3 linked regions of the Homo sapiens genome follow. The gene in region 2 interacts genetically with the main gene of each other region. Each region holds a gene or a part of one and is shown on either strand. Other genes may lie near its edges.

The links.
Region 1: changes in EIF2AK3 (region 2) and GBF1 together harm fitness less than expected from each alone (positive genetic interaction), as found in Homo sapiens cells (one study listed by BioGRID).
Region 3: of EIF2AK3 (region 2) and DNAJC3, changing one suppresses a phenotype caused by changing the other (phenotypic suppression), as found in Homo sapiens cells (one study listed by BioGRID).

Annotation. Positions count from the first base shown.
Region 1 is NC_000010.11:102,360,272-102,367,578, forward strand, and holds part of GBF1 (Golgi-specific brefeldin A-resistance guanine nucleotide exchange factor 1), read left to right. Parts: coding exon 1-124; intron 125-750; coding exon 751-849; intron 850-1,446; coding exon 1,447-1,641; intron 1,642-2,203; coding exon 2,204-2,393; intron 2,394-2,984; coding exon 2,985-3,125; intron 3,126-3,438; coding exon 3,439-3,527; intron 3,528-5,125; coding exon 5,126-5,328; intron 5,329-6,111; coding exon 6,112-6,235; intron 6,236-6,813; coding exon 6,814-6,939; intron 6,940-7,206; coding exon 7,207-7,289; intron 7,290-7,307. UniProt on the Homo sapiens protein: Guanine-nucleotide exchange factor (GEF) for members of the Arf family of small GTPases involved in trafficking in the early secretory pathway; its GEF activity initiates the coating of nascent vesicles via the localized generation of activated ARFs through replacement of GDP with GTP.
Region 2 is NC_000002.12:88,624,465-88,631,370, reverse strand, and holds the start of EIF2AK3 (eukaryotic translation initiation factor 2-alpha kinase 3 isoform 1 precursor), read left to right. Parts: upstream 1-3,906; 5' UTR 3,907-4,096; coding exon 4,097-4,404; intron 4,405-6,441; exon of another isoform or gene 6,442-6,625; intron 6,626-6,906. UniProt on the Homo sapiens protein: Metabolic-stress sensing protein kinase that phosphorylates the alpha subunit of eukaryotic translation initiation factor 2 (EIF2S1/eIF-2-alpha) in response to various stress, such as unfolded protein response (UPR).
Region 3 is NC_000013.11:95,671,906-95,680,185, forward strand, and holds the start of DNAJC3 (dnaJ homolog subfamily C member 3 precursor), read left to right. Parts: upstream 1-5,233; 5' UTR 5,234-5,350; coding exon 5,351-5,432; intron 5,433-8,280. UniProt on the Homo sapiens protein: Involved in the unfolded protein response (UPR) during endoplasmic reticulum (ER) stress.

The DNA.
Region 1 (7,307 bases), on a different chromosome or scaffold from region 2:
CTCAGAGGTTATGATTCACATGGGACTGCATTTGCTGACAGTGGCCCTTGAGTCAGCCCCTGTAGCCCAGTGCCAGACCCTCTTGGGCCTCATCAAGGATGAGATGTGCCGTCACTTATTCCAGGTAAGACAAGATTGCTAGAGGGTCTCAGAGCCTCTTTCAAGGGCCAGGGGAACACAGGGAGGTCTGGCTGATTACGCAAAGAGTATAGGACCTAGGAAAGCATCTCCCTCCCAGTTGGCTAGTAGTTTTAGTAAGAGGGTTCCAGTAGTTCCCCAGGGACTCTGGCAGCCAGAGAGAAATATAGGAATGGCTAGATGTAGAGTTCCCTGGAAGCAATGGACCTCAGTGACACCTTCACTCAGTTTGCCTCTTCTGCCTCTCTTGGTTGAGCCATAGTCAGCTTCAGAAACCTCACAGCCGGGCTGGGTGCAGTGGCTCACGCCTGTAATCCCAGCACTTTGGGAGGCCAAGGCGGGCGGATCACGAGGTCAGGAGATTGAGACCAGCCTGACCAATGTGGTGAAACCCAGTCTCTACTAAAAATATCAAATTAGCTGGGCATGGTGACGTGCGCCTGTAATCCCAGCTTCTTGGGAGGCTGAGGAAGGAGAATATCTTAAACCCAGGAGGCAGAGGTTGCAGTGAGCTGAGATTGCGCCACTGCACTCCAGCGTGGGCAACAGAGTGAAACTCCGCCTCAAAAAAAAAAAAAAAAAACTCATGGCCTACCCTGCTCTCATCTCCAGCTACTCAGCATAGAGCGACTAAACCTTTATGCTGCTTCCCTGCGAGTATGCTTCCTACTGTTTGAGAGCATGCGAGAGCACCTCAAGTTCCAAATGGAGGTGAGTTTCTTGATGTGGAAAGAAAAGGGGGAAAAAAAATAGGGAGATATATGGCATCTTCAGTGGGGCCAGCTCTATCATGCTACAGGGGTAGGATTTAGGGACTTCCTATAGGAGAGTCCTTTTAGCCTCCAGAGTTCGGTTCAATCAACTGGCCTCTTTTGTGGAAAAGTTAAAAGGAGACCAAAGGAAACTGGCTGACCCCAAATATGAGAACTGCCAGGTAACCTTACCATGAATAGGGACAGCTCTTCTGCCCAGCAGTTACTCTGCAACACAGGTAGGTAAGTCAAGCCAGCATTGTCACTAAATTGCTAAAAGGAACTCTAAATAGGACCAGGTCATGTTCACATAGCACAAAAGGGCAAGAGGCAACTTGTCTGGGACCAGGTATGTGGTAGAGAGCCAGGCCTTATCCCCCAACATGGAGGCCAAAGAAGAGATATATTTAGGGGATGGAATACCTTTGGGTGTCTCTTAATACATGCCTCTAGGCTGGGCTTCTGCATCCTGTTTAATGTTTTTCCTGTCTAATTTTTTCTCTTCCTATCTTGAATCCTTTCCCCACCCAAATGGCAATTACTGGGTTATTGCCAGATGTACATCAAAAAGCTTATGGAGATCATCACTGTGGAGAACCCCAAGATGCCTTATGAGATGAAGGAGATGGCACTGGAGGCCATTGTGCAGCTCTGGCGCATCCCCAGCTTTGTCACAGAGCTCTACATCAACTATGATTGTGACTACTACTGTTCCAACCTCTTTGAGGAACTCACAAAGCTGCTGTCCAAGGTGCTGAGCACTATAACTGGCTTCTAGGAAAAAACGCATTATAAAGGAAATCTCCCTGGTGGTAGTGAGGATGTTACATACAGAGAGGGGAACACTTGAGAGCTGGGAAATAGAAGAAAGGCATTTTCTTTTCTTTTCTTTTTTTTTTTTTTTTTTTTTTTTGAGATGGAGTCTCACTCTGTTGCCCAGGCTGGAGTGCAGTGGCGCGATCTCGGCTCACTGCAAGCTCCACCTCCCGGGTTCACACCATTCTCCTGCCTCAGCCTCCCGAGTAGCTGGGACTACAGGTGCCCACCACCACGCCCGGCTAATTTTTTGTATTTTTAGCAGAGACGGGGTTTCACCATGTTAGCCAGGATGGTCTCGATCTCCTGACCTTGTGATCCACCCGCCTCGGCCTCCCAAAGTGCTGGGATTACAGGCATGAGCCACCACGCCCGGCCAGAAAGACGTTTTCTAAGGGCAATGTACAAGTTAGAAGAAGTTTTGGAAATTTTAGAAAATGATCAAAGTGTAAAGTGTTCTCCTAACTACAAGTCCAATTGATCTGTTTACTTTCCAGAATGCCTTCCCTGTGTCTGGTCAACTCTATACAACACACCTACTATCTCTTGATGCCCTATTGACAGTGATTGACAGCACCGAGGCCCACTGCCAGGCTAAAGTCCTCAACAGCCTCACCCAGCAAGAGAAGAAGGAGACAGCCAGACCAAGCTGTGAGATAGTAGATGGCACCCGAGAAGCTAGCAATAGTGAGAGGCATTTCTTTCTTTGATGAACCCAGTGTTCTATGCTTATCCCTTCTCTACTCTCTGAGTCGTTTTTCCTGTCCCCATATCACTTCCCCTGGGATGCTCCCAATTCTGTTTCTGGGCTTTGGCAGTTTAAATCACAGGCCAGTCAGGCAGATTAGTAGAACTCATAGCCTTCTCCCTTTTTCCTCCTCCCCACTTTGGTTTTTTACAGAATTATTATTTCTTTATGGCAAGAGAAGAGAACAGAGATTAAAGAATATAGGATTTCTGTCTCTGAAAGCTCCAGGTCCCACCATCCCTCATCCCCAATATCTGCCTCCACTCTAATTAGTCCTCTCTAGCTCCCCCTTGAAATTTGAGGTTGCAGAAGATCAGGGAAAGTGACTGGGTAATCTCTTCATTAAATTAGAGAATCTAATGCTTGGCTGGGACAGGGACTACTTATTTTGGCTTGGGTTTGTCCTGCTCAGGGCTGGCGCCCTGTGCAGGAACCATGCAGGTCTTCTGGGCTTGGGATTTGATCTATCCTGCAGCTCTGCTTGGCTTCATACCCTATAAGTCTTCACGTATCTTCTTCTCTCTTACCAGCTGAGAGAACTGCCAGCGATGGGAAAGCTGTAGGCATGGCCTCAGACATCCCAGGCCTGCATCTGCCAGGTGGAGGGCGGCTGCCACCAGAACATGGGAAATCAGGATGCAGTGATCTGGAGGAAGCTGTTGACTCTGGGGGTGGGTACTGGGTGTCCATGACCCTAAGCTCCTCACCTGGAGGGCCTGGTGAAGAGCAGAGGGAGGGAGCAGACACCTAGGATAGTAACTAAGCAAGCCTTGGTAGCCCGCCTCGCCTTCAGACTCAGAGAGAGGGAAGCAAACATATGGACCCTCAGTTGATAGGACTTCCAGGGAAGTGGAAGACTGGTGAGGACAAGATTTCTGAGGCTCCTTCTTGAAACTGGGGAGTATATTGGTGACCTTCCAAAAGTCCTTATCTGGGTAAAAAAAGGTGTTACAGATATTTCCCCCCTCTTCTTCCTACTCCTAGCTGACAAAAAGTTTGCCCGGAAGCCACCCCGATTTTCCTGTCTCCTGCCAGATCCACGGGAACTAATTGAAATTAAAAACAAAAAGAAGGTACATACATGTATTCCCCAGCCTCTGTCCACCTCTGTCTGGGTGTCCAGTGTTGTAGGGTTTCCATCTCAGAAGATGAAGGAGAGTCTAGCACCTCATTGTACAGCTTCCTGAGGCCAGTCTTTGGGCTTGTTGGGACTTCAGCAACTCCCATTTGAAGCCCTTCCCTTACTCCTAAGCTATGTAGTTGAGCATACCCTATGTATGCCCCTGCGCAAATGCTGTACCAGTTGAGAGCCAAGTGTCACTAGTGGCAGTGACAGGAGCCTTGGGAGTTGGTGTCTTGTGGGTCATTGAAGGTTACTGTCATCTCCAGCTCTTGCAAGATGATTGGCAATAAAGGGAAATTGATATTCATTCTGGTGCTTTAGTAAGGTTCAAATAGTAAGGTTCAAATAACTGTTTGTACTTTGGATTTCTTTTTTTTTTTTTTTTTTTTTTTTTCAGACGGAGTCTCTCTCTGTTGCCTAGGCTGGAGTGCAGTGGCATGATCTCAGCTCACTGCAACCTCCACCTACCGGGTTCAAGCAATTCTTCTGCCTCAGGCTCCCAAGTAGCTGGGACTACAGGCGTGTGCCACCATGCCTGGCTAATTTTTTGTATTTTTAGTAGAGACGGGGTTTCACCGTGTTAGCCAGGGTGGTCTTGATCTCCTGACCTCGTGATCTGCCCACCTTGGCCTCCCAAAGTGCTGGGATTACAGTCGTGAGCCACCATGTCTGGCCTGTACTTTGGGTTTCTTAACACAAAGAAAACCTAACCCTTTCTGGCCGGGCGCAGTGGCTCACGCCTGTAATCCCAGCACTTTGGGAGATCGAGGTGGGCAGATCACCTGAGGTCAGGAGTTTGAGACCAGCCTGGCTAACACGATGAAACCCCGTCTCTACTAAAAATACAAAAATTAGCTGGGCATGGTGGTGCATGCCTGTAATCCCAGCTACTCGGGAGACTGAGGCAGGAGAATCAGTTGAACCTGGGAGGCAGAGGTTGCAGTGAGCTGAGATCACGCCACTGCACTCCAGCCTGGGCAACAGAGTGAAACTCCATCTCGGAAAAAGAAAAAAAAAACCTAACCCTTTCTTTCTCTTATTGCCAGCTTAAATGACTTTGGTTCATGTGTGCCCTTGAGTACCTGGCCGTGACTGGACATACAGAAATATGAGTTGCCTCCACAGTTAGTCCACTTTGTCTTTCAAACCCAGGGCATTAAGCTAGGCAACCAAAGAAGCTAAGCTAGGCTAAAAACAAGAGGCTGGCTATCAACAAATGTCAGGGATGGATATAAAACTGGAGAGAAGAATTACCTAGTTTCTTTCTTCTACTTTTCCCCCAATCCTAAGTTAGAGAAGAGGAACTGTTTTATGTATCTTGAGCACTCAGGAAAGGAGTAAAAAAGAGCTCGTAAGCCAATTCAATTAGACATGAAGATGGGGGAAGCTAAGGCCATTATGATCTAGCCTTAGTTCTGTAATCACTAAGAACCACATCCTAGGAGCTTTTTAGCTGACCAACTGTGGGTGGGCTATGGTGGACTCCAGGCTGGCCTTGTCTAATTTAGAGGCAAAGTAGCTTCTATACCTCTAGTTTTTCTCATGCAGCTGCTAATCACTGGCACAGAGCAGTTCAATCAGAAACCAAAGAAGGGGATTCAGTTTCTGCAAGAGAAAGGCCTCCTCACCATCCCAATGGACAACACAGAGGTTGCTCAGTGGCTCCGAGAGAACCCTCGGCTGGACAAGAAGATGATTGGAGAGTTTGTGAGTGACCGCAAAAACATTGACCTGTTGGAGAGCTTTGTGAGGTGAGGAAGCTGTAAGAAATGTGGGATATAGCCAGGTATGGTGGCTCATGCCTGTAATCCTGACACTTTGGGAGGCTGAGGCAGGCAGATCACTCGAGCTCAGGAGTTCAAGACCAGCCTGGGCAACATGGTGAAACCCTGTCTCTACAAAAAATACAAAAATTAGCTGGGCATGGTGGCATGTGCCTGTAGTCCCAGCTGTTCAGGAGGCTGAGGCAGGAAGATCACTTGAGTCTGGGAGTTCGAGGCTGCAGTGAGCTGTGATCATGCCACTGTGATAGAGTGAGATAGAGTGAGATAGAGTGAGATCATGCCACTGTGATAGAGCTGTGATAGAGTGAGACCTTGGCTCAAAAAAAAAAAAGGTGGGACATGGTTAGTGATCAGTTTAAAGGGACAGAACATCCCTACCTCAAAGCGGTCTCTATAAATTTCTTCTGGAGACCCTAGCCAATGTTCTTCCTCTACCCATCATTTATATCTATTGGACCTGAAAGGGACTCCAACGAGATAGTTTGGGGAGCCCCCTCCATTCTGCATGGAGTCCATTCCAAAGGGGTAGAGCAGGGTTCCAGGGGGTGAGGGTTCTAGGCAAGAGTCCGTGGATGTGAAAAGTATTAAGGCTAGGGGTTGTGTTAGGGATGAACAGGAGATACTGCCCCTTTACTAGAGACCTCAGCCTCCTCTCTTCCAGTAAGAGTAGGTTAGGAGGACAGTGACTAAAAGAGCCTGACATGTGCAGCTTACACATTTTCAGCCTCTTCTTCCTTTCTTTCCCTATAGCACCTTCAGTTTTCAGGGTCTGCGACTGGACGAAGCCCTCCGCCTCTACCTGGAAGCCTTCCGTTTGCCTGGGGAAGCACCAGTCATCCAGAGGTTGCTGGAGGCATTCACAGAGCGTTGGATGGTGAGTTTGAGTGTCAGGGGCTGAGCCCAGGATCCAAGGTCAGTTTGACTGAGGGCTGAAGAATCCAGCTGCTGTCTCTTTTTTTTTTTTTTTTTTTTGAGACAGAGTCTCGCTCTGTCACCCAGGCTGGAGTGCAGTAGCGCAGTCTCAGCACACTGCAACCTCCACCCCCCGGGTTCAAGCAATTCTCCTGCCTTAGCCTCCTGAGTAGCTGGGATTTCAGGCACCTGCCACCAAGCCTGGCTAATTTTTGTATTTTTAGTAGAGATGGGTTTTGCCATGTTGGTCAGGCTGGTCTCGAACTCCTGATCTCGGGTGATCCGCCCACCTCGGCCTCCCTGAGTGCTGGGATTACAAGCGTGAACCACCGCACCCAGCCTGCTGTCTCTTAAAAAGTCAGAGAGCAAAATTAGTGACCTTTCCACAAAGAGATCAGCTTCTGTTAAGGAGTTGGCAAGAGACTGGCCACTTTCTGGATGGTACCTCTCCTCTGTACTAGCACTGACCAGTGGGTTGGTAGTGAGGGTTTAATTGGCCAGAGAAGGGCATTGACACAGGCGGGATCTTTGCTTTTTCAGAATTGTAATGGCTCCCCATTTGCCAATAGCGATGCCTGCTTTTCCCTGGCCTATGCTGTCATCATGCTTAATACTGACCAGCACAACCACAATGTTCGTAAACAGAATGCACCCATGACCCTGGAGGTAAGCTTGGGTCCCAGTCAAGGCAAAGAAGACCCAGCACAGCTTGGGAGGTAGCAGGAAGGACATAGGATTTCCAGTGGGCATGATGGATGGGGTTCTGTCCAAGGGAATCAGGAAGGGCTGGCCAACCTAGAAAAGGGACTGGGGTGGGGAAGTGGGTTTTTTCGCTTACCTTTTCCTAAGTCCTATTTACTGAAAACCCAGGAGTTCCTTAGGTGGGGCTTCAGTGTTGACACAAGGGGAAAAAACTTACTGGCCTGTCTCTAGGAGTTTCGCAAAAATCTGAAAGGTGTGAATGGAGGCAAGGACTTTGAGCAAGACATCCTGGAGGACATGTACCATGCCATCAAGTGAGTATACATAGAGAA
Region 2 (6,906 bases):
CATCCCAAAACAGTGAGACGACAGGCAAAAGGAACAAAGTCACCCATGAAGCATGGAGAAACAGAAGGAGCATAAGTTTAAATAAAACATCACTGTAGAGCTGTGGTGTCAGTAAAAAAAAAAAACCCACTTCTTGCTTCACCCACTATATGGCAACGTTTTTGTTATTCACAATCAAATATCATTTCAACAGATGCAGTCTCTCTCTGTTAAGGGATTGAACTCACTGTTTCTAAATCTCAGACCTATTTTGCTGATTTTTTGGGCCACACTCAGTTGTAGAATCTTGGTTGTTTTGGGCAACCCTGGCTCAGGGTACCTGAGCACCAGCTTCTTTTCCTGGCCCAGCCTCACGGGCCAGCTCTCATGCCCGGTCCCCACTTTCTTACATTTCCCTGAGGCACCCAGGTTCCAGAGTTCCCACAAAGTCACTGTGAAGCTCCATGCTGTCCTAAAGCAGGTAGACTCTCTTTTCTCTCCTTAATTTATTTTCCCAGTCAGCACACTTCGACTCAGGCTTTTTTTCCAAAATGGAAAATTTGTGTTTTGTTCCCAAGTATAAAGCTTGACTCTCCTTACTGGCATTTTCCACCACTGTGCTCTTCTGCCCGCGCCTTTTTCATCATAGCACTTATCTCAGTTTTAATAATATATGTGTGATTGTTAATGTCTGTCTCCCTAACTAGATAGGTGTTAACCTTCAGAAGGGCGGGAACCACATCTATTTTGTTCATATCTTTATTCTCATTATTTGCAGGTGGTCATGTGGAATCCCTGAATGTTAAATGAATAAATAAAACTTCCACAGTATTTACAGGTGGCAAGTAGACTCCTAATTCATTAGTTCAGATTAATAGCCTTGTTCATGCCATGATCATTTTTTGAAAAAATTACAAAACCATGAAGACCAGGCCCACTAAAATATATACACTAATTTCAAACAGGTAGTTAACAATCATTTTTCATCTTATGTTAATTTTCTGACACCTTCCTCATACCAACTAGTATAATCCCTTTTAGGTGGGCAATTTTATCTCCTATTTTGTTGAGTAGATAATGGTCAATTGGTTTGAGTTCGCTCATCTATTTTCTCTACTTTTCAAAATAACTTACTCTCTAGGAATACCTCCTACGCTCTACTTTCAACATGGAAGGCAGAGCTGCCCCTTTTCCTCCAGATACTCTGGAATCTTGCTCTCGTAATCAACCCCCTCTGTCTACAGCAACTGCAGTCTCTTCCTTTCCAGTTGTCTCTTTCCTTCTGTCCTCAGGTATTCATTCATTCATTCATTCATTCAACAAACATTTATTAAATGCTTGCTAAACACTTTGCACTGTTTTATGTCTTCGAATACATCAATGAGCAAATCTTCACAGAATTTACATGCAAGTGGAAGGAAACACAGCAGACAATAAACAAAACAAATATGTAAATTACAGTATTTACATATTTGTAATGTATGTATCGGCTAAGCAGAAATAAAGCAGGAGAGAAATAAAGGAAGGAAGGTGGTGGAGGTTTTAATTTTAAATAAGGTAGTGAGGAGGGACTTCACTGGGATTAGCAAAGCCTCAAATAAAGTGAGGGAACATATCTTGTGGGTACCTGGGTATTATGTGCTAAATTGTGTCCCTCCAAAATTTACATGTTGAAGTCCCAACCTTTAGTGCTTCAGAATATAACTATACTGTATTTGGAGATAAGATCTTTAAAGCAGTGATTAAGTTAAAATGAGGCTGTTAAAGGTAGCCCCACACTCCAATCTGACTGGTGTTAGAAGAATAGGAAGAGACATCAGAGGGAAGAGGAAGTAAGAGGGCTGTCATCGGCAAGCCAAGGAGAGAGGCCTCAGAATCCCACCTTGATCTTGGACTTCTAGCCTCCAGAACTTCGAGAAAATAAACTAGTTTTGTTCAGGCCACCTGGTCTGTGGTATTTGTTAGGGCAACTCTAGCAAACTCATATACCTGGGAAGTTTCCTAGGCAGGCAAAACAACAAAGGAAAACCCCCCAGGTGGGTCTTGATTGGCCCAGTGGAGTGAGCAAAGACAGTATGAAATGAGATCAGAAAAGCCATAGGAACCAGATGCTGTAGCACCCTGTAGTCTATTTTAAGGACTTGACTTTTATCCTGAGTGAACTGGGGGACCTTTTGAGGGTTACGACCAGCACTATGGAGAAGCAAGAAGACCGGTGAAAGGTGTTCTAGACAGGAAAAACTTGAGTTGCTGGATCAAATACAGCTGATAAAACAAAGATTATCCTTTGAATACAGCACTGGTGGCCTCAGCGAGAGCAGTTTTGGTGGTGTGAATGCCTGACTGTAGTGTACTTGGGAATGGGAGAAGAGGAATTGAAGATAAGGAATTTTGAACACTTGAGTTTTGCCATACAGAGGAGCAAAGACACGTGGTAGGAGCTGGAAGGGGAAGAGAGGTTTCTTGTTTGTTTTGGGCTGGGGAGAGATTAGAGCATGTTTTTAGCAGATGAAGGATAATCTAGGTATACCCATATTGCCAACACCTTAACAAATCTTCACCGGTTTTGGACCAGGTGCGGTGGCTAATGCCCGTAAATTGCAGCACTTTGGGAGGCTGAGGCGGGAGGATGGCTTGAGGCCAGGAATTTGAGACCAACCTGGGCAACACAGAAACCCCATCTTTACAAAACAAAATTAAAAATTGGCCTGGCATGGTGGCACGCATCTGTAGTCCCAGCTACTCCGGAAGCTGAGGAAGGAAGATCGCTTGAACGCAGGAATTCAAGGTTATAGAGAACTATGGTCAAGCCACTGCACTCCAGCCTGGGCAAAAGAGCAAGACCCTCTCTCTAAAAAAAAAATTTTTTTTAATGTTCACTGGTTTTGATGCGGGTAATAGCCTCCCGGCCAGTCTCCTCCTCGTTGATGCTGTCACTGCTGAAGATGCATTTTCTTATCACTTCACTCATCTGCTCAAAAATCTTCAGGAAGTCTTGACTTGCAGCATTAAAAGTTCAAATGCCTTGGCTGAACATTCCAGTCTTCTCCACTCTGCCCTTTTGCAATTTCATCACTGTCTTTGGTGAGGTACAAAGCGTGCCAGGTCAGAGTCAGAAGACATGAATTAAAGTCATGATTCTGTGACCAACCAGCTACGTGATCTTAGGCTAACTACGTCAGTGCACTGGGCCGGGGCTCCTTCCCGTTCCTAAGGAGGCGGGAGGCGTGTCGGGCAGACTGGATTGTCACAGGTCACTGCCATCTCTAACAAGCGGACTTCTGAGCCCCGTTGCGGCCACAAGTAGGACCATCTCCTGCATCCTCCTTACCCTTCTACTTCTAGGGACCACACGGCTTCTGTGGCCACTTCTTGCTGCTTCGCTTTTGCCTTCCTAAGTAGACTAGGCTTTAGAAGAGCTACAATACCAGCTCCTTTAAGGTCGACCTCCTCCCGGTCACAAGGCACTTGCCTCCCACTCTTCACTTGGGACAGTCCTCTTCACAGTCAGAATCCGCCACGTAGTAAGTGCCGCTTCCAACCAATCAAGAGGCAGTTAGCGCAGACCTTTGAGGGACATCCACTTCCACCAATGATCTTCAAGTCTTCTCCAGCGCCTCGCTTTGTGGGGCGAGGCCAACCACCGCGATGGCCAATCTGTTGTAGGAAAGGTATTCCGGGAACTGATGAGCGCACCAATCAGGTAAAAAGACGTCGGGGAAGGGCATTTCTCATTGGTAATTGCGTCCGGAAGAGGGACGGGCCTCGAACGACGAAATTACGATTTGATTGGTAGGTGCGATGTTGACCACCAGGGAAAGTCCACCTTCCCCAACAAGGCCAGCCTGGGAACATGGAGTGGCAGCGGCCGCAGCCAATGAGAGAGCAAACGCGCGGAAAGTTTGCTCAATGGGCGATGTCCGAGATAGGCTGTCACTCAGGTGGCAGCGGCAGAGGCCGGGCTGAGACGTGGCCAGGGGAACACGGCTGGCTGTCCAGGCCGTCGGGGCGGCAGTAGGGTCCCTAGCACGTCCTTGCCTTCTTGGGAGCTCCAAGCGGCGGGAGAGGCAGGCGTCAGTGGCTGCGCCTCCATGCCTGCGCGCGGGGCGGGACGCTGATGGAGCGCGCCATCAGCCCGGGGCTGCTGGTACGGGCGCTGCTGCTGCTGCTGCTGCTGCTGGGGCTCGCGGCAAGGACGGTGGCCGCGGGGCGCGCCCGTGGCCTCCCAGCGCCGACGGCGGAGGCGGCGTTCGGCCTCGGGGCGGCCGCTGCTCCCACCTCAGCGACGCGAGTACCGGCGGCGGGCGCCGTGGCTGCGGCCGAGGTGACTGTGGAGGACGCTGAGGCGCTGCCGGCAGCCGCGGGAGAGCAGGAGCCTCGGGGTCCGGAACCAGACGATGAGACAGAGTTGCGACCGCGCGGCAGGTGAGGGGCTGCCGACCCGGGGGAGGCAACTTGTTTACGCGCGCGAGCCGCGGAGGATGCGGTGTAGGGGGGCGGAGATCCGGGACCCGGGCGGGCGTCTTCCCTCGGCTGCGGAGGGCAGCTGGCGACCTGGGGACGAGCGCGGGGCCACGACGCCCTCCCATCCCCCGGCCAGCGACCTGCCTGGGCTCGGCTCCCGAGGGCCTGGTGCTGGCCGACGGGTCAGAGCAGCATCCTCGCAGGTGCGGGAGAATGGAATTCCAGGGTTGCAAAGAAACGCCACTTCCCCTCTTTCATTGTTTTCGGGCATTGATTCTCTTCCAAGGAACCTTTCCCTCTTTTTCCTTACGCACATCACCTCCTGTCTGTGCTGGCGTGACAGCTGTTTTGAGAAAGGACTTTAGCAAAAGACGTCTGCATTTTCTTTCAAACACAACTCTGTAGTGCCCCCGGACAAGGATTGAGATCAGTGTCTAATTGAGATCTGCGGAACACCTGCATCCGAATCACCTGGGGTTGCTGGTGAAATCTACAGTTTTCTAGGCCCTACCCCAGTTTTACTGAATGAGACATTCCCTGGGTAAGAGCCTGGCATCTGCGTGTTTAACAAGCACGCCGGATAATTCTTGCACGCTAAAGTTTAAGAGCTATAGTCAGATTCTTGAATATTGGTTCTTGAACCTAAGAGCCATGGTTAGGTTCTTGAATAAGGGGTTTACTGTATAAACATTTAATATAGGGTTTTCTTTGAGTTTCTCAGCATTCAAAAAATGTTACTTCAAGGTGATTGTTTTAAAGCACTTTTCAAAGTCTAGACACAATGTAAGGCATGTTAACAGTAAATTTGGGGGACAGCCAATCTTATCACACCCGTGGAGAAAGTGATGTCCCATTTTATAAATGGAGTGCTAAAGGGAGCATTAAGTAAATTAAACTAGGGAAGGCTGGGCTCTGGATTGGAACATATTTTAGACTTATAGTCATTACTAGATCGTAACAAGTTAGATTTAATTTTAAATTAATATTAGAACTTTGATCTATATATCTGGAGACTACTATAAATAGGATAAGTACTAAAATTCTCTAGGCACCATTTGAATATATAAACATTTGTAAATATATATATATAAAACAAAGTTTTCTTAGGTTTGCTAATGAGTCAGTTTTCCTGGAAGAGTGTTTTTGTTTATCATAAATTTCTGAAGCTCCTGCTCAAAATGAATTACATGAAGTAGAGTTGAGACGTTTTCTTTTTCTTAGAATTCAAATCCACTTCAACAGGTACTTACTGGTTAACAAGAGCCCAAGGATGCCCTGGGTGGCAGAGGTTAGGCAGGTAGTTCCTGCCTTCCAGGAGAGTGTGCAGTCTAACAGTACGGATGAAACGAGAAGACCTATAACAACATTACAGACTAGAAACAGTGCCAGTGTCAGGGATGTCCCAAGGTTTTTGTGGTGTTCTACTAGGTGAGGTATGGGAGTGAGGGTAGGTAAGAAGATAAGAGAAGGTTGTGGCAGAATGAGTTGGTTCCTGAAAAATGGGTAAAATTGTAATGGAAAGTCACTGGACTTGAGGAAACAGCAAGAGGCACAGAGGCCGGAGATTATGTTTGGAAAACATTTTGTCTCTGTGTATGTCTGTGTGTGTGTGTGTGTGTGTGTGTGTGTGTGTGTGTGTGTGTACGTAAGCGATATAGACATGCACATATGTATGCTAGGCAGGGAGAAGTAGATGAGGATAGAAAAAATAGGTTAGAGCCGACTGTATATGCATATAGTCTGATGCTAATAGCATCATTGTCACTTGGGAGTATGTTAAAACTCCGGAGTGGGGCACCACCCCACACTCCCTGAATGAGAGTATCTGCATTTTAACAAGATCACCGTGTGATTCACATGCACGTTAAAGTTTGAGAAATGTTGGGTAGAGTATCCTGAGTGCCAGGCTTGATCAAAATTACACCTAAGGAATGTTTCTCTAGCAATAGTGTGTACTGAAAACTTGAGTTAAGAATACCAAAAGGAGAGTGTTATAGCAGTTCAGATGAGAGGTTTAGTGTAAAGTGGTATAGGACAGAGGGGACAGAGTTGAGATATTTGATGCAAAATCTAGGTTCCTGGCAAGTGAATGCATTCTTCCTTTCTTGGTACCCTTGTCCAGAGATTGAGACTGCGTGGCCAGAAGTTGACAAAAGAGGTTTAAGGGAGCAGGGAAGAAAAGGTAAGGGGTTTGGTGTTGGACATGTGACTCGGAGGTGCAGGCAGGACATCCAGAGGGAGGTAGGCGGGTGGAAATGAGTGACTAGAGCCAGTGAGAAGGCAGCATAAATATGAATAGGTGAAGCTGTGGGAAAGGGAAAGCTCATGAGAAAACCTCAGGAAATGCCTTTTATTTTAGGGAGGAAGATGAGCCAGCAAAGGAGACAGAAATACAGCTGGCTAGGTTGGAGGTACAGGAGGAGGACTGGGAAGAAAGATTTGGCGATGAGCACACTTAAAGAG
Region 3 (8,280 bases), on a different chromosome or scaffold from region 2:
GTTTGCCAAAACTGAAGTTCTGACTGCTGGAACGGACGATTCCCCTCTGGCTAAAGCTGATCTAAATGCTCCCTCCATGGGTGTTGGCAGCACTAAGTTTCAAGGCAAAGGCCCATAATTACTGTCCTTTCTCCTTCCACAAATGTACAAATTCTCTCTCAGTGCCACACAGTCACTGCCAGGGGATAGGGGAGGGGTGATGTTGGCAATTCAAGACTGCCTTTCCTACTCTCTTCAACGCCTCTGTCAGCAATATGCAGTTAAAACCAGGTACTGTGATTGTTCGCCTGATTTTTGGTTCTTATGAAGGTGCTTTTTTTGTGTAAATAGTTGTCAAAGTTGGTGTTCCTGTGGGGATGATGATCGGTGGAGGCTTCTATTTGGCTATCTTGCTCTGTCTTCCTCATGTTATTTTCAAAATCCATTTTGATTATGTCGTTTAATTATTGTGTTTATAACATTTATATTTAATGCAATTGTGTTTATATGTTTGGATTTAGATGTGAGAATCTGGAAAATAATAAGTTCTTATATTTGTGTTATTACAAAAATTTTATAAGATCAAACCTATTTAAAGACATGTCATTATGTCACTTAATTTAGAAATTAGAAAGCTTAAATTTTGAAGAGTTTACCCATTGTATATAAAATATAATATTGTACTTAGTTAATTTCTTATAAAATCAGAAGATATATAGCTGCCTTTAAATTAGTATTAACACATTCCAGTGATCAAAGATTCATCTATTTATCGGAAACAGTACATGAATCTTTTAAAATACAATTTTTACACTTTGTAGTCCAGAATTGTAATGTTAAAGACTCTTTAAATCACACTTCAAAACTTTTAGCTCATAATTATAATAACACAACCTATTATTTAAATGCACTCACTCACATTTTAAAAATAAAAAATACAGTGAACAGCATTTTTCTTTTAGATATTTTACTAGATTGTTTGGACTAGAATATAACTAGAATGTGTATGTAGCAATAGACATTTTAAAAACTCAAATAACCTACAATTTTCAAACTGAGAGAAAAAGAAGAACATCAAAAAGAGGAGAAAAGAGCTGGCTTAGGCAACTGTTATCTCTGTAAAGGGCTAATTCTCTTTCTTCTGCAAGGAAAGGAGATAAAATTCGATGCAGAAAAACTCATCTGTACACAAATACACAAAAGAGAGTCACTGCAGTTGATTTAAAAATACTCAGGCCCTTCACAATATTTTAAATAAACTTCTATTGCTGAAACAACTTTCAAGTAAGGGCATAAGGATAATACAGGGAGGTCCCAAATACCCCTTATTTTTCTGTATTGTTAGCATCTTGCATAACCATGGTACATTTGTCAAAACTAAGAAAGTAATAATGGTACACTACTATTAAACTTGAGACTATTCATATTTCAGTAGTTTTTCCACTAATGTCTATTTTCTCTAGGATCCAGTTCAACACAGCACACTGCATTCAGTCATCAATTAAGTTTCCTTAGTTTCCTCTGGTCTGTTACAGTATTTCAATCTTTCCTTGTTCCCCACGACGTTGATAGTTTTGAGGAATACTGATCAGGTGTTTTATAGAATGTCCTTCAATTTTAGTTTGATTTTTTTTTTTTCATGTTTAGACTAGATTGGGTTATAGGTTTTGAGAATACCACAGAGGTGAATTGCCCTTCTCATCACAGTATATTGGGAGTATATGCTATCAACATGACTTGATGATATTAACTTTGACCACCTGGCCAAGACAGTGTTTCCAGGTTTCTGTACTATGAAGTTACTCTCCTCCTCCCTTTCCATACTCTGTTCTTTGGAAGTTAGTCACTAAGTCCAGCCCACACTCAAGGAAGGAGGGAAAATAAGCTCCACCTGATGAAGGGGGACGTATTGTGTTAAGCTGAATAACGGTCCCCCAAATATGTTTACATTCTAATCTCCTGTCATTGTTCTATAGCAAAAGGCAGTTTTTGCAGATGTGATTAAATTGAGGAACTTGAGTAGGAAGAATATCCTGGATTATCTCAGCAGGCCCAATATAATTAATTACAAGGATCCTTGTAAGACGGAGGCAAGGTCAAAAATGACAGAAGGTGATGTGAATACAAAAGCGGAGATTATAGTCATGCGGCCAGAAGCCAAAAAACAACATAAAAGAGGGTGGAAAGCAGAGAAGACAAGATGTGATATAAAAGCCAAATTTTATATGAAGGTACCAAAATTTGATCAGAATCCCAAAATCCTTGAAAATAAACTGTAAATTTGACATATAAGGGTCATTTTTTGTTCCTCAGATTGGCAAAAACTGAAAATCAATTATATCTAGTGATGGTGACTAGGCAGGAATATAAACAGCTGATAGGAATAGAAATTATTCCTTTAGGGAAAGATAATCTGACAACGCATCTTAAAAGTTTAAACAAATTCTTTGATTAAGCAAGTTCAAAAACCTAGTTTTTTTTTTTTTTTTTTTTATAAAGTGTCACTCTGTTGCTCAGTCTGGAGTGCAGTGACATGATCTTAGCTCACTGCAACCTCAAACTCCTGGGTTGAAGCAATCCTCTGCCTCAGTCTCCCTGAGTAGCTAGGGCAACAGGCACGAGCCACCGCACCTGGCTAGTTTTAAATTTTTTTGCAGAGACAGGATCCTGCTATGTTGCTCAGGCTGGTCGCAAACTCCCGGCCTCAAATAATCCTCCCATCTTGGCTTCCCAAAGCGCTAGCATTACAGGTGTGAGCCACTGCGCCCAGCCTAGAAATGTTTCCTAGAAATAAAAGCACAAGTTTGTAAACATAAATGTGGAAGGATGTATATGGTGGCATTAACTTAATGCTGACTTTTTTGTTCTTAATTTGGCACAAAAAGGTGTTTATAAGTGCTCTACTTGTTTCTGAACATTTATTTCTCCTCATAGTTAATTCCTAAACAAATCTTATTCCCTTTACCTACAAAATATGTTCTAGATCTGTTCACTCCTCTCTACCAACATTGTTTTTCCTAGTCAATAAACATAGATCAACCTAATAAAAATTGCATAATACTCTTAATTTTGGATATATCATAAATATGCTACCATTGTTTTTTAAGTCTTTTGCTACTATAATTAACAGTATGAATTACAGTGGAGATTTAATGTTTAACTTCAAAAAGACTCCATAGAGTCTGACGAATGCAAACATATTTACAGTAACTTTTCTTACACTCACTAGATTACTTTGATTTTCGGTTTTATTGGCAAGAGTGATTCGTGAAAACCATGACTAGATGAACATTGGAGGAAACATTCCCAAGCATTAATCACTTAATTTTAGTTTTGTACATTTTTTTCTGTCTAATGTTACCTTTGTTGTAAAATTATCTTTTTTTAAGGAATGCTTTGTAAAGCTTAGTTCTAATATTACAGAATTCATAGTTATGTAATTAATCTCAAAATCACTCACCATTGAAGACCCTTGCTATTTTTATTTCCTATAACACGAAGTCTATTATCTCCTTAATAATTTTTAATTTCCATCCTTAGAACTTCTTCAGCTCTGCTACTTTTTCCTTAAGGCCAGGGTCATAGGCAGCACACTGGTGATAACTCACTGTCTAGAAATATTGCATTTTGTTTACAAAGTTATTTTCTATGTTCAGCATTTTGCTGGCTGCCTTGGGTACAGTACCTCAATTGAATGTCTACACCTGCATATTTGTGGACATTGAAATCATCTACCATTTTTCAGAGACACTACCTTGTGATATAAAAAAACAGAAGCCAAAAAAAAAAAAATCCCAAGGAATTTCTGAAGGAGCCTCTCTTCACTACTCTGCTCTTGTTAGAATAATGAGTAACACTGGTATAACATTCTACAATTTACAAGAATATTTATCTGCTTCATGAAACCTCAAAACAAACCTTTGAGACTATCAGGATCCTAACCACTTTACAGATGAAGATAACTTACATAATAGTTATGGGGTTTCCTGGATCTGACTCCTTTATTCTTCACATTACATTATGTTGCCTTCCCCACAACTAATCAAGGACTCCGTTTTTTCTTTTTTCTTTCTCGAAACCATTTCCTCCATATTAGTTCCCTTTGGAATAGAAGCCTTTTTAAAAGTCCACCTTAGTATATCTTCAGGGAATCACAAATTCACTATGCTATTTATAATTCATGAGTTTCTCTAATGGTATCAAGGCAGCAAATACAGGTGAAGTAATAATTATCCACCTGATAGTACTTAACACACATACCCCGTGTAAAAATACTGCTGGTGTACAGTGTGTGTGTTGGTGACGCCGGAGGAAGTGGCCGTGAACAGGCTTAATGCCGCATTGAGTAACTTCAACCTCATCTTGCTCAGGTTCATATCTCTCCTGAATTTCCCCTGGTAAGCGCAAGATTCAGGATCCGTTCTCACAGTTTTTTGTTTACCAGTTGATGTTGGCTGCATTCAGGAACGCCTTGCTCTCTTAAGCCACAGTGCCTTCCTGGTCTCTTCTTCACAGGGTCTTCCACAATCGCTCTTTTTCCTGGGCACGGTGGTTTGCTGAAAGTCGGGGTGGGGGGCGGGGCGTTCCCAAGTTTCCAGGCCAATTACCTACCTGCCTTAGAGCAATTACGCACTTCTCTCTGGTAGTCCCTGAAATGTTCTAATCATCAGATCGCCCCAGCTTCTCCTGACCGTTTCTTGCTTACGGCTCAGTTCAGACAGTATTTGTTCCGGGACGCTCAGCGGGAGGCGGTTTTTACCGGCTCACTCGAGACCCCAATTCCAGGCGCCCTGCAGCTTCCCTCAGACTCCCCGGGACCGTGTTTGGCCTTCCCATTCGTACGCTGCGGCTGCGCTTTCCTCTCGTAACACCACGCTGGCGAACCTGGAAAGGATCAAATAGTCCCACTCGCCAACCTAGCGCGGCGGGACCGGCCCAAAAGGGCCTTTGCAGCCTGCGCATGCGGACTCGGCGGCCGCCACCGACTCCCCGTCTGCTTCCCTCCGGGCGGCAGCCGCGGTTTGGAGCTTGCTGACAGCTCTGCGACCGGCGGGCGCAGCCTCGTCTCGTGCTTCCACGTTATCCTATCAGGGACGGGGCGGGGCGGCGGCCTCCGCAGCCTATCAGCGCGAACCACGACCCCGGCGAGCCCGGGAGGAAAGCCGCCAGAAAGAAGGCGATTGGATGGCGGCGGCGCTCTGGGGCGTAGCGTCGCCCGGGCCCCGCCCACCGCTGCCTTCCTCTGCTGGGCTCCAGAGCCACTGAGGCCTGAGCGAGAGCCGACGGCGGGCGGGCGCAGCTGCTGCCGGAGCGCCGGCGCGTGCTGGTGGGCCACACACCTTTCCTCCTCTTCACTCGCGAGCCCTCGGACATGGTGGCCCCCGGCTCCGTGACCAGCCGGCTGGGCTCGGTATTCCCCTTCCTGCTAGTCCTGGTGGATCTGCAGTACGAAGGTGAGTCCTGCCCTGCCCCGGCCAGGAAGTGGGCTCCCGGACCAGGCCCCCCGCGCTTTCCCGTCTGCGCCCGGGCGCCTGTCCCGGAGCGGCTCGGGAGGTGGGGCGAGCGCTGGGGGAGCCCGCGGCCTGGCTTGGGCCTGAGCCCGCGCCCGGTTCCGGGTTTGTCTGGGGAAGAATCGAGGGGACTGGCGGGCCGCGGGGCCGGGACAGCGGGTTTGGACTAAGGAACCGGGCCGCAGGAGTCGGAGGAGGCGGGGTGCGGGGGCACCGGGCTACGACTTCAGGAAGTCCTGGGACGCGGAGACTTGGGCAGCCTTTGGGTCCTGGCCTCGCTTGGGACCCTCGCTGGGCGCCTGGGGACACTGTCAGTCATTGGTGCTGGCTGGGAGGAGGCACTAAGGTGGCCAAAAGACTTCCTTCGCTCTGGAGTTCTTGGGTGGGGAAGGAGTGTCATGTCCGGCTGGGAGTTGGAGGGGACAGTGTTGACTATTTAAAAAGTGTGTAACCATCCCCATTAAGATGCACTGTCGTGTAGAGAAATTGTTAGTTTGGTGCAATGAGGAGCCGCTGTTGGAATTCCATCTCCCGGACGGCCAGGCACTGAGTTTGTGGTTTTACAACTCCCAACATGGTGTCATTCAACGTATGGCTGGCATTACTTTTCCAAGTTCGCTGTAAAAAGGTTCCCTTAAAAAGATACGAACGATTAAATTTCACTTCAGTCCTGCAGACTGGAATGTTGGCTACTCCAGAATAGCGAAAATAGAGGGCTGTCCTATCTTAGATGGCAGCGGGGAGGAGTAAGAATTAAAGTTGATAGTGCCGATTTAACGAATGCTTCTGGCGCGGTTACTGTGCGAAATATTCGAGTGTAATGACACATCACATGCACTGATCTATTTTCATCCCCATAAAAAGGGCTAGTTGTCAAGGAGGTCAAATTAAACCTTTGAGTATTCCATTCAAAGGGAGCGAGGAACTAAAAATTGGGAATTGTTTATAGTGAATTCTTCTGAAAGTTCTCAACTTTTTTTTTTAAAGTAGTACTCCCCAGTTTTTAGGTGTCACCCATAGCAATGGGCTTTTGCTTTTGCTTCCCCTGGTAACCATATTTTTTGAACCCCAAATCAGAACACGTAGTGTGGCAACATTGGGACAAAGAATTTGACAGTGAGGCTGCCCCCAGAAAAATCTAGGGGATTGGAATTTGAAGGTCTGTACCACTTTAATATGGGTCATATATTCTAGTTCTTTTGCATTTTCAAAAGCTTCATTCCTCCTGCCCCCGCACCCCACCATCCCTCATCTGTAGTATTTATCTCCAGTTATCATTAATAATTTATTTTGGACACTTAAGAGAAAGTTGCCTATGTTCTGTTTAATGGTGATTTTTTTTTTTAAGTTACAGAGATGCACAATTTTGAATGATTGCTTTTCCCACTACTTTTTAGAATTGCTGTTCTGTATATGAGTCTGTAAGGACTCTTAACTCTTCATTTCCCTCCTGTGGTATTTTCCATAAGAAAACCACATTTGAGAGCTTTTCTGTGTAGGAGGCACTGGTGACATTTCTCAGAGGAGTGCCAGAGTGTCTTCTTTAGGACCATTGTCTGTGTAAAATAGCAGGGACTTAGTACAGGTAACAGAAAAAGGAAAGAAAGGAGCCTTTCTGTAAGCCATATCTTATTCACGAAAGCGTGTGGTATTCATTCCTACTTTACAGACCAGGGAACTGAGGCTCCAAAGGTTTTACTAAAGTTCATTTTGTGTGCACGCTGGAGACAGAAGTTAAGTAGTTGACAACATCATGTGAGTCCAAGCACTTTTAAGTGATGGCAGCTGAGAAAAAAAATCAGCACTTTTTTTTTTTTTTTTTTTTTGTAATTAACAAGAAGGTTATTTCCTGGGAGGTTTAATACAGTGGTTCTCAAACTTGAGTGTGCATCAGAATCGCACATGGAGGGCTTTTTAAAACAGAGTGCTGTACCCCACTTACAGAGTTTGATTCATTAGGTCTTGATGGGACCTGAAATTTTGCGTTTCTAGAAAGACCCTGGATGACCACACTTGAGAACCACTGGTGTAATAAATTATATAGAGGAGTTAAATTAGGTGTCTGCTATGTATTTGACACTGGATTTGGTGATAGGGATATAAAGGTAAGAACTCTGACTTGAATTAGCAAACCGTTAGCCCCTGTTTTCCCAAATAAATTGTGTCTGGATTCACTAATCTCATAGTTCTCTGAAAGGCAAATGGTGCTACTGCTAGGCCTGAGGCTTAATAAAATTGTGTTGTATTAAGGATTTTTGTTAAATAGGTAGGTTTTAGCTGCTCTTGTCACACAAAAAGTAATTATGTGAGATGATAGATATATTAATCTGCTTCACTCTTATTAATCTGCTTCACTATTGTAACCATTTTATGTGTGTATATCTCATAATACTATGTTGTAAACATCAAATATATACAATACAATTCACTTTTAAAAAAAGAAATGAAGGAGAATGGTTATGAGAGAAGTGAATGTGGAACTAAGAGTGGCACAGGATGGGGAAGAGATAACCTAGTGTTTTTCTGATTTTGAAATATTTGCCTTTGTTTTCTTCTAGATTTTTCTGTTAATTGTCATCCAGAGACAGAAAGTATATATCATGAATTGAAAGTTTGAGTCTTTTGGCACCCTCCCTTCTCAAAGGCGTTTGAAAGAGTGAAGTCTAAAGCACTAGATGAGATCGAATTTTTGGAATAGAAAGAAAACTTTAGTAGTATCTGCTTTAGTATTCTCATGTTACAGATAAGGAAGTTATTTCATTTCTTTGCTAATGGTTTGTCCTCTTGGTGA